Regions from separate parts of the Homo sapiens genome. Here region 1 is linked to region 2. A link means that fine-mapping ties the variant in region 2 to the expression of a gene that starts in the linked region. Tissue or cell type: whole blood. Region 2 holds a variant in brackets; the other region holds the start of a gene. All regions are shown on one strand. Distances are between the middles of the regions.

Evidence for each region. PIP is the estimated chance that this variant, and not a neighbour inherited with it, causes the effect.
Region 1: it holds the start of SYN2, and the variant in region 2 is fine-mapped to the expression of SYN2 in whole blood (GTEx, PIP 0.93).

What each region holds. Positions count from the first base shown.
Region 1 is chr3:12,000,239-12,008,418 of GRCh38, reverse strand. It overlaps SYN2 (synapsin II), which reads right to left and starts at 4,031. Exons shown (of 13, transcript NM_133625.6): 1 at 3,491-4,031. The coding sequence starts at 3,867. RefSeq lists an enhancer at 2,832-3,332.
Region 2 is chr3:12,183,590-12,191,769 of GRCh38, reverse strand. SYN2 (synapsin II) reads right to left here. Exons shown (of 13, transcript NM_133625.6): 12 at 4,158-4,401; 13 at 1-1,280. The coding sequence ends at 1,145. Among named protein-coding and RNA genes, the nearest start is that of TIMP4, 29 kb to the right of the region's middle. RefSeq lists enhancers at 3,944-4,083, 4,284-4,393. The variant AGAGGAGGAAGAG/G (reference allele first, on the strand shown) is at 4,298.

The DNA of each region.
Region 1 (8,180 bases), 180 kb after region 2:
AAAGTATTTATCTTATCTACCTATCTGGACAGCAAGCTCTTAGATGGCAGATACTGTGTCTCATTTTTCTTAGTAAATATCCCCTATACAGAGAAGGTGCTTCATAAATATCTGTTGCCTTATATCTGCAGTCTGGACACTCAAGAGTACCTGTGCTATACTGAATCAAACACTGAAACATCATGCCAGGATGAAAAGCTCACTTGATCACTGGGGTCAGAATCTCCGGAACAAAGGCAGGACAGAATCTGAGAGAAAACGTATCTCTTCGCTGGTGAGAGTATAACACACAGAAGAAACAACATAAACACCTGTTCCTTGTTTAAGCACGATCATTAAAGTGCAATCTTAATTGCATTTCAAATTTAGCCATGAACCTTAAAAGAGGACATTTTCTGACAATATTTACAAAATACTAATAATAAATAATAAGGTATATAAAGAGCTTGATTTCAATTTTTAATGGCACAGATAAATTTTTCAACGATCTTTTAGTGTGCGATTAATCTAAAGATCTCAAACAACCAATGAAAACATTTCCAGCAAAAGAAAAACATCTTCCAATTTTCCCATCAACCTGGTCAGTGGTGGGGTCTCCAATTGCCCACAATTACAATGACAGAAATTCAAAGGAAACTGCTGTTGTATTAAGGATGCTCTGAGAGGCTGCTTATTTTAAGCCCTTCTTTTACATCTCTTGCTATTTAAATGCTTGTTCAGACTCTTTTTATTTTAGCATTATATAATTCAGAGGGGACCAATATTCTTAAGTTCTAATGAGTCTACACTCTGACTTCCTATTCCAGCACCAGAAAAATAATATAGGGCATATACGATATCACTCATTGAATACTATCTAGGTAGCTTAAACTGTGAGACAATTTTACTAAAATCAGTCTTCAGTGCAAAAATCACCTGTGTAAGTCACTGCGCTTGTCACGGCAAGCACCTGCTCCTTAACTCATAGAGACTTTTCAATAAAACCACTCATCAATTTTTAACTGAGATTTTTTGACAAATTTAGGCCCATATTAGAAGAGCAATTCTGGGAACTGCTATTAAGCACAGAAACACAGGAGCAAAAAACTGTTGTCAAGAACTAGACTTGAACTGGGCTTATGAGTTTTAATAAATCAATGTTATTACTTCAGAGAAAATAGGAAAACAGTTGGGAGTCAGCCCACGGGAAAGTGGCTTCTATGACTTCCATCAGAGGCTTCTAGTCTCCAGGGCAAGGCAAATTCTCTAGTTTATGCCAAATAGGCTTCCTAGAGAATACTATCCAAAGAGAGTTTCAAATCTTAAGCTACAGAAGCATTTATAACTAAACAGAAATCTGCAGCAGCTTCATCATACCCATACAAATAAGTATCAGTACCTATCTATAGATACCTAACTGGCAATAAGACTCAAAACAAGTGCATTTAATAGGATAAGAAATCAGGACAAGGTACAGAAGGGTCAAATTCCTGCACAGAAAAATAAAGCACGAATGTCATTCTCATTTCTCCTCTTCCTTTTCTTGGCCTTTCTTCAAGATTCATCTTTTGTGAAGCTTTCTCCAATAACTCTGGCTCTCACTAACCACTCCATTTGTTGACTGCCTGAAACACTAGTCTCAACCAATAATTCTAGATTTCTTTTTAACTGTTTCATGTATCCACTTTGTGTCCCAATTTGAGTGAGTTCTCTTAAAAGGCCCCCACACTGCCTAGAGGGAGCTTGTTATTAATATTGCTAATAATAATAGTGAGGCAATATAACACAGTGGAATGAAAGCAGTGGAGTCAAACAGGCCTAAGTTCAAATCCTGCTTCTACCACTTGCTGGCTACATGATTGTAAACATATTACTTACCTTTCCTAAGCCTCAGTTTTGTGAAGAAAATGCAATGAGATATCATGCTGAGAGTACAGCATTTGGCATATAATGGATGCTCTGACTGAGCACCTTTACTAGCTTGGTTACCTTCCCTTCCTCCGTAATAAGCACTTGTTGATATGAACTGAGTCAGAGTAATTCTAAGGAGGGCTGCCAGTGGCACTATCATATGCATTACACTTTCCCCATTACCCTCTTCCATGTGCCTTTGTCATTTCCTGGCAAAAGTCCTTTCGGATTTTCTACTCTACTCTCTTGAAAAGGCCAACCACATAAGTCACCCAAAGGACTATTCAGAATGGTGACATTAGCAGCCAGCAGGAGGGCATCTCCACATCTGCATCTCATTTCCACCACACCCACACGCCAGCACTCCCTCCCTCTGGGTCTCCCAAAGAGAGAATGCTAGAGAGAGAAAGCAGTGAAGCAGCCAAAAGAGGAAATGGAGAGAAATAGCTCTGTGGTCTCTCTGTGCACCCCTCCTGGGAAGAACACTCAGGTCCAGTCTCCAACCTCAACCCCTATGAGAAAAAAAAAAAAACAAAACCCTTGCTCACATTCCTGGAGAAAAGGCACCCCCAGATTCTCGGCCTCTTCATTTCTCCAAGCCCTTCACCTATCAATTTCACCATCCCACCATTCCCTAGGTTAACTATAAAATAGAGCCGCTTTTAACTAATTTGTCTTCAGTGGACCTCATTCGTACTTTTACCAAGCAGCAGCCTTCACCATTCTAAGTTGGAAACATGCTACCTATCTCTTTAGAAGAAAAAAAAAATTATTGAAGTTTCCCATCTACTACATTAAGGCAGGTCTCCTTTTATTTGTACCCCTTTAATGATCCAGTATATTTTACCAAGGTCTTCATCTTTCAGCTAGAAAAAGCTACCATTCACTTCCACGCCCCGCCCCCCACCACGCACATTTCAGAAAAACAAGCAATCAAAAAAAAAAAAAAAAAATTCCACACGTCCCCTCCCTGCTGCACAAAATACAACAATTTTATTATTCATAAAGAGACTTCAGCCATGCTCCGGGGAACAAGCCCGTGTACACCTGGGCCACTACATGTGTGATTTCATCAACCTGATGTCAATACTTGATATCAGCCTTCATGGGTCCTGGTTAAAAAAAACCCACCACCACCTTCTCCCTCCAAAATACCAATTTCCATTCCAAATTCACTCCGTGCTTCATGAAGTTAAACCTTTTTTACTGGCCCTAAATGTTCCTTCGGCCTCCTGGGACTATTTCACTTCAGATTTTATGTGTCTAAGCTAACAAGTGTGTCCCCTCCTCTACCCCCAAAAAAACTATTTCCTAAGGGCCTTTCCTGTTGCATAAAGTAGCTCCTTCTTGTATGGGACCTGGGGGACCTGGGGCAATTGAGGGGTATTTTAGCTTTGGGTTCGCCTTTCCGGGCTGATGGATGCCCTCCCTCACCCCGCAAACGCGCGCGCGCTCAGCCCGCACCTCCTCCCAGCGGGACCTCGGGGACCCTCCTTTTTATTGGTCTGAAACGTTTCCTCGGCGACCTGGGACCGTCCTCTCCTGGCCTGCGGCTGCCGGCGGACCCCGACCCCCGAGGGCGGCGGCGCCCGGCACCTACCAGTCGGCGTGCGGCTCGTCGACCACCAGCAGCACCTTGGCCTTCCTGGCGGCTGCGGGCGCGGGAGCGGGCGCGTCCACCAGGCCAGCCGAGGCGGCCGTCTGCTTCACGGCTTGGGACAGCGAGCTGAAGAAGCTGCTGCCCACCGACGGCGTCGGCGCGGGCTGCGGCGCGGGCGCCGAGGCGGGCGGCGGCCTCCGCTCCGGGCCCGGCGAGGCGGTCGGGGGCGCCGCCGAGGCCGAGGCGGCGCCCGGACCGGGGGGCGGCGGCGGCGGCGGCTGCTGGGGCTCGGGCCGCTGCAGGTCGGTCATGTAGCCGTTGGGCAGGTTGGCGATGAAGCTGCTGTCCGACAGCCGGCGCCGCAGGAAGTTCATCATCTGGCTTAAAGGGCTGGGGGCGCGCGGGGCTACGGGGTCTGGTGGCGCGGAGGGAGAGCGAGGGCGGAAGGCGAGATTGAGGCGACTGAGGCGGCTGAGGCGGCGGCTTAGCCAGCAGAGACTCAGGCCCCGGCACCAGACCCCGCAGACAGCAGCGGCGGTCTGGGCCAGGCAACCCGCGCGGCGCGAGGCTCGCGGAGAGGGAGCGGGCGGGGCAGGGGCGGGGCCAGAGATAGCCCCCGCCCCGCGCCGCAGAGGCGGCCCCGCCCCGCTCACGGAGGGCACCTAGCCGCGCGTCTGGCGACTCTCGGGGCTTGCAGGAGGGGGCGACCCAGGCCTCCAGCAACCTGAGCGTGACTATGCGGGGAGGGCGTGGGAGCCAGGCCTTCTCCCCAGGGGAAGGAAAAGGAACCAGAGGCCCCACCATCTTTTTGGTTGGAGAGAAAAAGAGCCGTGTCCCAGCTGAAATGGAGGCGAAGGAAACCGACCCCACTCCTTTTGGAAGGATAAGAGGTGTCAGCCTCCCTATGCGGAGGTGAGAACGAAAGGAGTCATCCCAATCACGCGCGCACACACGCACACAAGCACGAACACCCTGTAGTGAGGAGGAAAAGAACCACCTCCTTTCCCAACGCTGGGGAGAAAGATGTCATCTCCCCAGCCCCCAGAAGAGGGGGAAGGGAATAATCCGCTGTTACTAACACACACACACACACACGCGCGCGCGCGCGCGCACACACACACACACACACACACACACACACACACACACCCTATGGTGAGACAAAAAAGAAATACCTCTTCTAGGGAGGAAGGCAGCCTCCTTACTCCAAGGCGAGGGAGAGGAAAGGGGAGAAACAGATCCTCTCTACTCTGTCATGGAAGGAGGGGTGGGGTGTGTTTTCACTCCTGCACTTCTAGGGACAACAACAGTATGTACTTCTCTCCCCCTCCTCACTGACCAGTGAGAGAAAACCAAGAGAAGACTGGAGACATGGTCTCCACCCCAAGAGGGATATCTAAGGATCCCCCAACCCCACCGTGTTTCTTTCCTAGCATGCATTGATGCATCCAGTGCTATACCAAGAAGGACATCTCTTCAAGATCTTTCTACTTGTTTTTTCCATTTTATTCGTTGCCTTGACCTCTGTGAAGACATTTCTGATGGCCACCTTCCCATGTGCACTCTCTAAATCTTGCGTGACTCTTGGACCTTTAGTTTTCATCTCTCATTAGATATACTTTCCCTTGTGTTGTAATGGAGCAGGACACAGCAGATAGGCTTTACAGCAGACTACCCCGGGTGATATGTGACCCTGGATCAATAACCCCTGTGAGCCTCTCTCCTTAGCTGATAAAAAGGAATAAGTAACCCTTTCCAGAGTTGTTACATGGAGTAAATGAGATCATGTATGTAAAGCATCTGGTACACAGCAGTAGGTATTCCAGTAGTGATGCCTGAATTCTTTTTTCAATTGGTTCTCAGTAAGTATGTACTGGGCTGAATGGAGTCAGGGAGTGGCTTGTCACTAATGTTGGTGGGCAGTTCTTGCTTCCTGTATCCCAGCTGGCACTCAACTCAGGGCCTAGAGATACACAATCCAGCTCTGAGCCGGTGCTATCAGAGAAGTCTCCAGTCAACTATAATAACACAGTGGTCTTCCTATCTACTACATGCTTGGCACAGTGGTAAGAGCTGGAAAGGCTGAAATGAATGGGAAGTGGCTCTTGTCTATTGCAAGTTCATGATCTATGTGGGCTGGGGGATGGAGGGAGGATAGACACAGGAACCACATAAGATGTGAGAAATGCTATCATACAGTTGGGCAAAGAGGGTTAGGAGGCCTAAGGAGGGAGGGACTCATTCTGCCTCTGAGACTTAGGAAGGCCTCTCAGAGGAGGTGACATTTGAGGTGGATCTTGAGGCAGCTATGTTTACCAGTAGAAAAGTGAAGAAGGCAGGCAGGCAGGCAGCCAGAGAAGGCATGGAGAAGGTATGTAAGTTGATGGTTCCTCCAGGAAGCCTTTCGTCAATCCTCCAGGGCGGGCTAAGTGTTCCATATCCTGTGCTTGGCTTTGTCATAGACCCCAAAGAAACTATCATACAATATTCTGGTGACTAGAATGTAAGCTTTTCTAGGACAGGATTATGTCTTAGTTATCTTTGGGCTTCACACCAAACACAGGACCTGGCATGTAATAAGGACTCAGTTGTTTGAGAATTGAACTGTAATCTTACCCAACTCGGTTTTTGTGTTTATTGGAGAATAAAACTGATAAGTCACTAATAACATAATTAAATAAACTTAATTATTGCCCTTCTTAAAAAAAAATTTTTTTTTTGAGATGGAGTTTCGCTCTTATTGCCCAGGCTGGAGTGCAATGGCACGATCTCAGCTCACCACAGCCTCCGCCTCCCGGGTTCAAGCATTTCTCCTGCCTCAGCCTCCTGAGTAGCTGGGATTACATGCATGCACCACCATGCCCAGCTAATTTTGTATTTTTAGTAGAGATGGGGTTTCTCCATGTTGGTCAGGCTGGTCTCAAACTCCCGACCTCAGGTGATCTGCCCGCCTCAGCCTCCCGAAGTGCTGGGATTACAGGCATGAGCCACCACGTCCGGCCATCAAAGGCATGTATCTCTAATGAAGGGATTTCAGACACTGTGTCACTTCAATTTTGGGGGTGATAGGTTTTTTAAAATAATATTTCAGTAAGTAATTTCCCCAACCGTTAAGCTTATAGTATATGCATATATTTTTAAAATCAACCAATTAACAGACGTGTTTTCATGCCTAATACATGCAAGCCATTATGCTAGGGACAGGAGGGTAAAGGAGATTCAGGGATGAATGAAACCCAAGTTCTTAAGAAGACAGCTCATAAACATGTGAACACATAACTAGCAATAGCAGAGCAGCCTGTGAGTGACCTGAAAGTAGAGCAGGCAGTGAGTGTTAAAGGAGCCAGAGGAAGAAGAGATCTCAGGGACAGGAATTTTCACAGAGAAAGAAAGGCTCAGGCCTTATAAAATGGGCGGAATTCTGACAGGCAGGAAAGAGTGGATGGAGAAGGCAGCCAAGGTAAAAAGGATAGCCAGAGCAAAGGCTATCCCTTTGAACTTCTTGAATCTCCTCCTTGAAGGCAAAAACCTTGTCTGTGTTGTTTCTCACTGTCTTTCTTGAGCTTTTCATGGCACTGGCATATGCATTCTAGTGTTTGTAGGGGTGGCTCTGAGAGGCTGTACTTATGCATATGTTTATGTTGCTAGTGTCTGTCCAGCTTCTCTTTTTAGATTGCAAGCCCCTCAAGGTGAGGGATTCTGTCTTCTGATTTTCTCAGAATGATCTACAAAGCCTCTAACACATAGTAAGTGACCCAGTTGTGGGAGCTAGATCAGAATGTTCTCTAAAATGTTATTTTAGAGCCCTTCATAGAAACCATGGAGGCCTACAAGATCATTTAAAAATGTTTATCAAATATTCCATTAATTTATTACATTGTTTTCTGGTAGGTTTTAATAAGAATATTATTCTTGTGGAGGAACAGACTGTTTTCATATAATTGGGCATAAGTGGTCATTGATCAGTTGTGTATGATCAGAAGTTTTCATTAGTTAGTACAACTGTAAATCACATCTGCTTAAATCAGTATCTTCCGGCTTGCAGTGAGTCCTTGCCAAGAAGTGTTTTTGCATGCTGCAGAAACATGCAGTGCATCGTGTCTTATTATAAATGGGCTGTAATGACAATATTTCCCTTATCCTTACCTGTGGATCTGGGTTCCCGATACAGGTAGAACATAGCACTATTACTCTGTCGCCTACCTTTTACCTGGAATATGAAAGGATAACTGGATTTGGACTCAGGAATGTCTATAAAATATGAAATTTTCTACCTATCTCCCTCTTAAGACCAACCAGCATTTTCCCGTCATCTCCAGGTAGAAGGCATTTCTCCCACAGCAATCGGTGTAGGGGGTCTCTCCCACCTTTCTTCATCCCTCAGTGTCTGACTTAGCCACTGAGATTCTCACTGTGAGAATCTCAGAGGTCTCTTCCAGTTCTAGAAGCCCAGGACTCTTTGAGATCCTTCCTTTGTAATCTTTATCTTCCCACTGAATTTTGAACACAATTAAGCATCTGGCAACTGCAGATGAAAGAATCCTGCTAAAATCAAGCACCAATTTAAATGCTTTATCGCCTGATTTCTCTCTTCCCTTGAGCAACAGTGCAGCTGAGATAGCTCACAGAGAGAGAGGCTGGGTACATGACTGAGGAGCAATTTTGTCTCTGTAGGGCAGAGCTCAGAAAC
Region 2 (8,180 bases):
GCAAGTGAGTCTAAATTGACTCCTCCGGGAGCAAGGGTTCTGTGCTTATTTGAAAGGTTACAAAGTCCGTAATATAGGTAGAAACGCTGAGTTGCTGAAGGAAGGCTAGGTGTCTTGGAGGAGACAGATTCACTGGGGAGGTGCGAGGAGGCCCAGAAGTGGTATGTAAAGGACAGACACATTCTCAAACACTTGCAAACACATGTACACCTGCAGTCACACACACAAACTGACACAAACAGCTTCACACACCTAGATTTTTCACTCCCTACACTCAAGCACACACACACACACACCCCTCATGGACACTCTCTCAGCCTAAAGGGTGGCCAAGGGGTCAAGACCTCATGGCTGAATCAAATGTTGGTGAATGCTGCTGCTTTTATTACACCAAAGGTCTTAACGTTTATTAGGAGATGAACACAAAGCTTGGCATACTGCTGTCATAGTGGCATGCATTCTCCTCTATAGTGCAGCTCTGGAGTTCAAGGTTACTGCAGATTGCACATAAGAACCACTCTTCAGAGGGGAGAAAAGGGGAAACTGCAGATCCTTGTTCTCCCGAATATCAGCAGACTCAAGGTGCTTCACCACCACAGCAGCCTAAGATCTTGTAAGTTGGGTGGGTGTGCTTTAAACAGTAACACAGGTATGACAAGGGATCCAGGTCGGGGAAAGTTCCTAAAACTTAGGGCCAAGAGTACTTTTGGGGAAGTATATACTTCCCAAACAGGTATCACTGAATGGGGGCGGGGCATGCTTAGCACTGCAACTGAGCTAGGTTAAGCTGCCAGGAGTCCACGATTAATCCTGGTTTCACAGGGAAGAATAAGACATGATGGCACTGTCACAATAAGGCCACTAAACTCACAGCGAACGATGACTTCAGAAGGAAGCTCTCATGACTACAGGGAAGCAGCTCTTTCCTCTCTGATGCCAGGTACCCCTTGCTGGGTAGGCACCTGCCCTGAGACTGTCAAATGGTCCTTTCTGGGCTGCACAACATCACTTAGTACAACAGAGCAGAGGAAGGGACCACACACGTCAAGGTCATGGGACATAACCACCAAGCTGGCTGACTGTTGTTGGTGAATGTCTTAGATGCCTTTCCCGGTTGGGCTGGGTGCCCCGTGTGTCTGAAGAGCTAATCTGAAAAGAGGCTGGCAAAGGACTTCCTCAAGCTCCGGATGGTCTCTGCTTTGGCTTCATCCTCATTGGCTGAAGACCGGAAGAAGGAGGACTCAGAGAAGCTGAAGGCATTTGTCAGGGACTGCGACTTGCTTGAAGATAAAAACCAGAGAGAATGTGAGAGGGTGGTGTTCCCAGCAAGGCAGGGAAGGACGGTGACGTGAGGATACACAGCTAGAACCCCCACTCCCTCCCTGGGAAACCAAGGTGATGGAGGATAATGCCAGAAGTGGCCATGCTACCAAGACCCTGGGAGACTCCTACGCTACTTCCTCAACTTTGGTGCTACTAGAATAGAAAGGGTGGGGACAGTGTGGGAACAAGGGAGAAGGAAAAAAATAAAGAAGGGAAAGAGGAGGAAGAGGCGACTCAAAGGCCGCTTCTTTAATTTAATCTGAAATGCCCAAGGGCTAAATTTCACAGATCCCAACTTGGTAAGAACTAACCTAGGAATCTCACATTACTTTTCTGATGAAAAGAAGTCACAATGGGCCTGTGATGCTGGCATTGTCTTCTCTATCAACTGTCAACTGGTGGAGCCAGATGAGAAGACCTGGGCCAAAGTCTCGTTTTGCCACTCACTCCCTCCTAACTGGAGGCAAGCCACGTGCCTCTCTTTGGGTTCTCATCTGTCAAGTTTGGTAAAATGAAGATCTCTAGGCACTTTTGGCTCTTTCTATTCTGATCTCTTCTCTGATTCCAAAAGAATATATTGGCTTGGCTCAAAACTCTAACACTTCAATTTCCCTGTTCTCTTTTTGTTTGTTTTGTTTTGTTTTTTTTTGAGACAGAATCTCTGTCGCAAAGGCTGGAGTGCAGTGGTGCGATCTCTGCTCACTGCAACCTCCGCCTCCCGGTTCAAGCGATTCTACTGCCTCAGCCTCCCAAGTAGCTGGGACTACAGATGGTTGCCACCATGCCCAGCTAATTTTTGTATTTTTAGTAGAGATGGGGTTTCACTTGGCCAGGCTGGTCCTGAACTCCTGACCTCATGATCCGTCCGCCTCTGCCTCCTAAAGTGCTGGGATTAGAGGCGTGAGCCACCGCACCCGGCAATTTCCCTGTTCTTAAAATGGATGTAGTAACCACCCTTGTAACCCTCCTCAGAAGAGCGCTAATATGAGGTCTATGGGGTTCAGGGTGTCCAGTGGCAAAAGAGATATATATCAGGCCTTTACAAGTTTCTTAGGGAGTTTTCTAATGAGAAAATCCAAACTACAACATTTTAGGGGCCTATTCTCCCCTTGAGAGACTAGTGGTTCACAGAGAAAAACCATGAAGCACAAGGCCATGGGGAGGCCCAGCCTGTACTCCAGGAGAGGACATGAGGTCTGGCTTCTCCAGCGGCCCAGCTTTTCTCCTTCTTGACTCCTACTCACTCCTGCTGCTTTCTGGCTCCAGAACTCTTCTCCTGGTGTCTTGGGACTCTCAGCCCTCCCTTAAATGCTGGGTGCAGCTCAGGAGAAACTCCCTTCTACAGAACTGTGAGCAGTCTCTCTCTGCCTGCAGTGACTGTGAACAGACACCCTGCCTTTCATTAGGGCTGGGAACGAGACCCAACACGCTGGCCTCTGGGAGTGGGGGCACTCCTCAGCCCGCACAGGCAGAGTACTGGGGATGAGCCTCCAGCTTCTCATCAGAGGTTGGCTCTATTCAACAGCTTCAGCCCAGAGGCAGTGACAATCCAAGGATCTGCCCTCACGCGGGGGCTAGAGTTGGCTAGTGGGAAGGCAGGAGGGATTAAAAAAAAGTCAGCAGGCAGGAAACAGCTGGGCTGAAGGGACATTATGTGGCAGGCAAGAGGCAAGAGGTGCCACTGGCCCGAGCTGGGGAGCAAGAGTGGGTGATGCCCCTCCCATCACACGGGACTGGAAGACCCAGAGAAAGTGACCATCTGGACACCTGAGCCCCGCAACCTTGGCTCTGCCACTAATTAGAGGAGTAGCTCGGCTTTGAGAAAAAAAAAAATTTTTCTTTGAGCAAAGTTTTTCTCATCTGCAATGACTACATGATCTCCTAGTGGCTCATTTCAACTCCAGAATTCTCCAGCCCCCTTTTCTCCCTCCCTGAAGAGTCATTTGTTGCCCGTCACCTCACTCTGAGAAGCAGGGGTGTATCACTACCATCCCCTTACCATCCCCCTAAGGCTACGGCTGTCTGTGCTGAAGGTGGTGACAGAAGTCTGCTGGGGACACTGCACAAGCAATCAGAGGCCTCTGTGGGAGAGAGGGCAGAACTGACCATCGTCCACATCCAGGTGCTGTCCCTCCCAAAGACAGCTCTGCTGCTTGCAGGGGTCTGTGCAGTGGGGCAGTGTGGAGGGGCTTCTAGGGTTGATTGCTGGGTGTGGGGGAACCCAAGAGGATGGAGTTCCTCAGCGTCTCTGCCTGGGAACTCCTCTGCTGCCCACACCAGAAACTGACCTCCTTTGGACAGAGCTGAAGGTAAAATGTTGAAATGGATTTAACTACTTCCCTCTTTTCATTCTGGGCAGCCTTACTGATTGCATACTCTGAACTGTGAGTCAGAGGCAGAAAGATTAAAAATTTTTTTTTACAAAGAAAGAAACACACACAAAGAAAAGGAATGGAAAAAAGAGTGGGAGACAGGGTTTAAAATAAACAAACCAAAACCTTAAGCTAGTACAAGACTAGAGAAGGGACAGTGACTCTGCCGTAGTGCCACTTCCCAGGAAGAAAGGGAAGGGGGTTGAATTTCTAGCTAAACTTTAGACTTTCACTTCCCTCTTTCCTCCCTTCTCCAGTGAACCCTAACCACTCCTTTAACCAAACACACACACACACACACACACAAAAACCAAAAACAAACTAACAAAAAAAAACCAAATCCCATCACAAAATATCTGTAGGAGGAGACCTGATTGAAGGTGATTTCTAGCAGCTCTGGAGCCCAAGGCCCACAGGAAGGGTAGGAGGAGGGGAGGGAGGAGCTGCTGAGTTGTCTCTTACTTGAGCTGTGGGTGAGGCTGGGGCTTCTGTGGTGGAGCAGCCAGGGGTGGCTGGGCCTCTGCCAGGGAGCTGCTGCTGGAGGGTGCATCTCCGTGGGTGGTGGGGCCGCCCGGCCGCTGAGGAGCCGAGGAGGAGGAAGA[AGAGGAGGAAGAG/G]GAGGAAGGTGGCAGTGATGGTCCAGGGGGGAGCCGGCGTGGAGGCAGCACCTTGCCTGGGGGCTGCATTCCTTGGGGTTGCCCAGGGCCCCCTAGGTTCAGTACAAGAAAAACTTCATAATTTAACCATATAAAAATGTTTCCTTATTAGAATTTATGCCTCAAAGGGTGTGGTTAGTTAATTACCCAAAGGATAAGCTCTATTCCAAGAAGCTGGAGTCTCTGAAGGGCCCTAAAGGGGGTCCTTGGTTAGCTATCCTTGTATATAGCCACTAAGTGCTTCTCCTCAGAAACGGAGCAACTCAGCCACAGCAGCAGTCAGCAGGACAAGGAGGAACCAGGGACGAGCGGCCCCGTCAGAGGCGCACTCTCTCACAGAGGGCCCTAGAATGCAGGGTCCTCTCCCCTCCTCTCTAGAGGTGTCTCAGGCACAGACCACCCTGCTCCAGGGTTTATTGGGAAGTCTCAAGTTCCACATGGCAGATGCAGGAGAGTGTGGTGGAGAGAGCACTGGATCTCAGAAATAGTCTACCAGTGACTCCCTGAGCAAGTCACCAAACTTCCCTGGGCCTTGGTTTTCCCAAACATAAAACTTTAAAAAGTGTAAGCCCTGGTCTTAGTTGTCTTTTAAGGGGTAGTGTTTCAAAGATAATAGGGTTGAGCAAGTTCTTCAAAAAGTATTCCGTACCTTATGATCACCTCGATGGTCACTGACATATGCTGTTTTATGGAGCTGCCCTTGGTCCTGCTCCAAGCCTGCGTGGGTCTGATTGCCAGGCCCACCATGCCCCACCAGGGCTTCATTTTAGCATTAACTCATGCCCACAACCAGGAGAAATCCATTCTTCCTAGGCACTGTTTTGCCTCTCAGTAATATCCTCAAGGGGTTCTAGCAGGATGAACCTCTCAGCCATGTGTGGTAGAATTCTCAAGACATCCAAACCCCACTCTCCCCTGGGGATGTTGTGGGTGCCATTTGGCAAATGAAAGCCCCCCTAAAAAGGAACAGCACACCCTCCTCCCAGCATGAAACACTAAACCATCTGGTGGCCTGGAGAGGAAAAAGGTCCTCCTTCCTCTGGGAGTTGACAGGCATTAAGGTGGTACCAGATTGCCTAGAGTTTGCTGAGGAGGGTCCCAACGCTTAGAAATCAAAAGCCATCCCCATTAGCACCTACTGACTAGTGGAAATGATGCACGACTGCCCTGGGAGGTCCAGTCTCTCAGCCTCAATCCCACAGTCCACATCCACGGGCCTGCTGGAGGGAGTGGACTTACAGAAACTCAGCACCAGCTAGTTGTATTATCACTTAGTTTTTAAGAAACACCAGAACATCTGCACCCTCTGGAGAGGCAGAACTGTATGTCTATGCCACTGTGCACCCATGACTATCCGCTCAGTTCCCCACTATAGGGCACAGAATACCCTTTATCATCTAACCAAATAATACCAGAGTTAGTTACAGAGAAATAAACACATACATAAATCAATGGAATTCTGCAGGTTTAAGAAGCTCCAAATTCAAATCAAATAACTAGTGAAGATGATAGATTAGCAGATTATTTCACATTAACCAGCTTTTGCCACTTCCAAAGTTTGGCATCATTTGCATTAGCATTCTCCTGTAAGGTAATACAGGTTAATAGCTCAGTCTCTTGCACCAGAAACCTGAGTGCTTTCCCATTTGTGCAGATACTTGGATAGCCAGAAACGTTACAACTTAACACTGAAGACAGATATAACTTTTCCTTTATTGCACATTAAGCTGTACAAGAGTCACAAAAGAGAGGTACTTCAATCATACTTCCAGCATTGGCTGAGGTTCTCCCAGTTGGATCAGTACAAAAAAAGGGGACAACGTCAGGAAAGAAATAGGTACAAAACACCTGAATGGCAATCCTATACTGTGACACAGATGTCCCCCAGGCCACAGAGTTGTCCCTAAGCATGCTGCCTGAGGGCACATAACAGTCAGGTTATGCTATCTGCTTGCATTTGGCAGTGGGAGCCCTAACCAATTTCTCCCCCACCTGAAAGACCTTGACTGACACCACCCTGTAGCCTGACTGAATTCAAATGGCAACTTTGCATTTGTGGCTCACAAATGACACATGAAAAGCACCAGATGTACACACTGATAACATGCAGAGAAGCAATACCACCGTCAGCTCATCGCTTGGACAAAAATATACGATAAAATAATGTATTCCTCCATTCTGGGAAATGTTACTTTATTCTATCGTTTCATCAGATTGGGAGGTATTTAAGGACCTGATTCTTATGCAACCCATCTGGAAGTGCAAATATGCATATATGTATATATTTACAACAGATCAACTACCATTATCAGCTGAGGGAGGGATTACAGATGACAACATTCACACTCAATGCATTTCTCTGTGGCCTCAGAATTTACCAGCAATCAAAGGAGAAACCAAGGCACAAGCCCCTGGATACGTAACTCTTGTTACATACCACCAACACTAGTTCCTTCTCAGATCTGGGAGTTCAGAACGGTGACATGACAGTATAGAGGTGGAAGGGAATGTAAAAATAGAGCCAGCAGCATTTCTTCTCAAAGGCAAGCTGCTGGCATGAACTTCCACGGACCATGGTGTTTGTTAGAGGCGGCTGCTTGGTGCCCGTTCCCAGCCTGGCCGGGAGATGGCAAGATGAGGCACTGAAGCTGAGGCCTGGTTTAATGAACTGCCTCAGCATCTGCTCAGGTGCTGCTTGTCAGAGGGAAGAGAACAAACTGGTGAGGATTCCTCAAGAGCCACCGCTGTGGAGCCTCTGTCCAAAACACACACAAGCTAAATCTGAGACAGTTCCTCCCAGGAAAGAGAAAGCTCCTCAATCTTTGGACCCTGGAGGGCTGTGGTAAACAGCTGAGAACTGAAGCAGGAGTCAACCTCAAGGTTCTGTAGGCAGTGTACCCACTCAAGTGACATGGGACATTTTTGATTTGGTCTCCCATTATGAGGCCTCAGGAGAGGCCAAGAGCAGAATGGACAAATCCCTGACAGACCTTCAGTAGCTCCCTGCATTCTATGTCCAACATTGCCAAGGAATTATCTCTGTACACAGGTCAAGCTTTGGGAACAGAAAGCAGCCTCAGGTCCACACAAGCGCACACATGGCTGGATCCAGAAACAGCAACAATGAAGAAACAACTGAGATCAACACACACAAAATACTCACAAGTTCACTTTGATATTGCACATCAGCGGCCCCATTTTTTAAAAATCTCATAGTTAATTAGTTAATAATAAAATAAAGGGTACACTGGGATGTAAAATACAGAACACATTCCTGGAAATAGCTTGTTCTTTGTATTTCATGTCATCACTAAAAACACAAGAGCTCTACAGGCACAGCCAGCCTATTCACATAAACTCAAACTGCACCAAATTTTAGCAAATGGAGAAAAAGGTGGATGCCTTCAAATTCAGTGGATGAAGCTATGGAAGTTTGATCTTGAAAATCTCTTAATGTTCTATCTAGTTACAATAGTCATGCAGAAAGAAAGCGAAAAGCACAGTTCATTGAAGATCCCAAGCACACTGGTGGAGGGAAAGTTGGAGGTGGGGGATTTAACTGAGCTTGGGGGGAGGAGAGGAGTTGGGTTTTCTTTTTGTGGTTTTCGTTTCTCCCCTGTCCACCCCCCTACTCCCATTTCACCCCACATTATATATTACTTTTAAAAACACTATCAAACCACCCAGAAGATAAAGTCACACTGGACTTGGGAGAGGCACAATTCTTTTGTATACTGTTGACAAACAGCCCTGGAATCACAAGTTATACAGAGAAAACATAAGTGAGCATTACAAGCACGAACAGGAACAGGTAAACAACCAGACAGAGGAG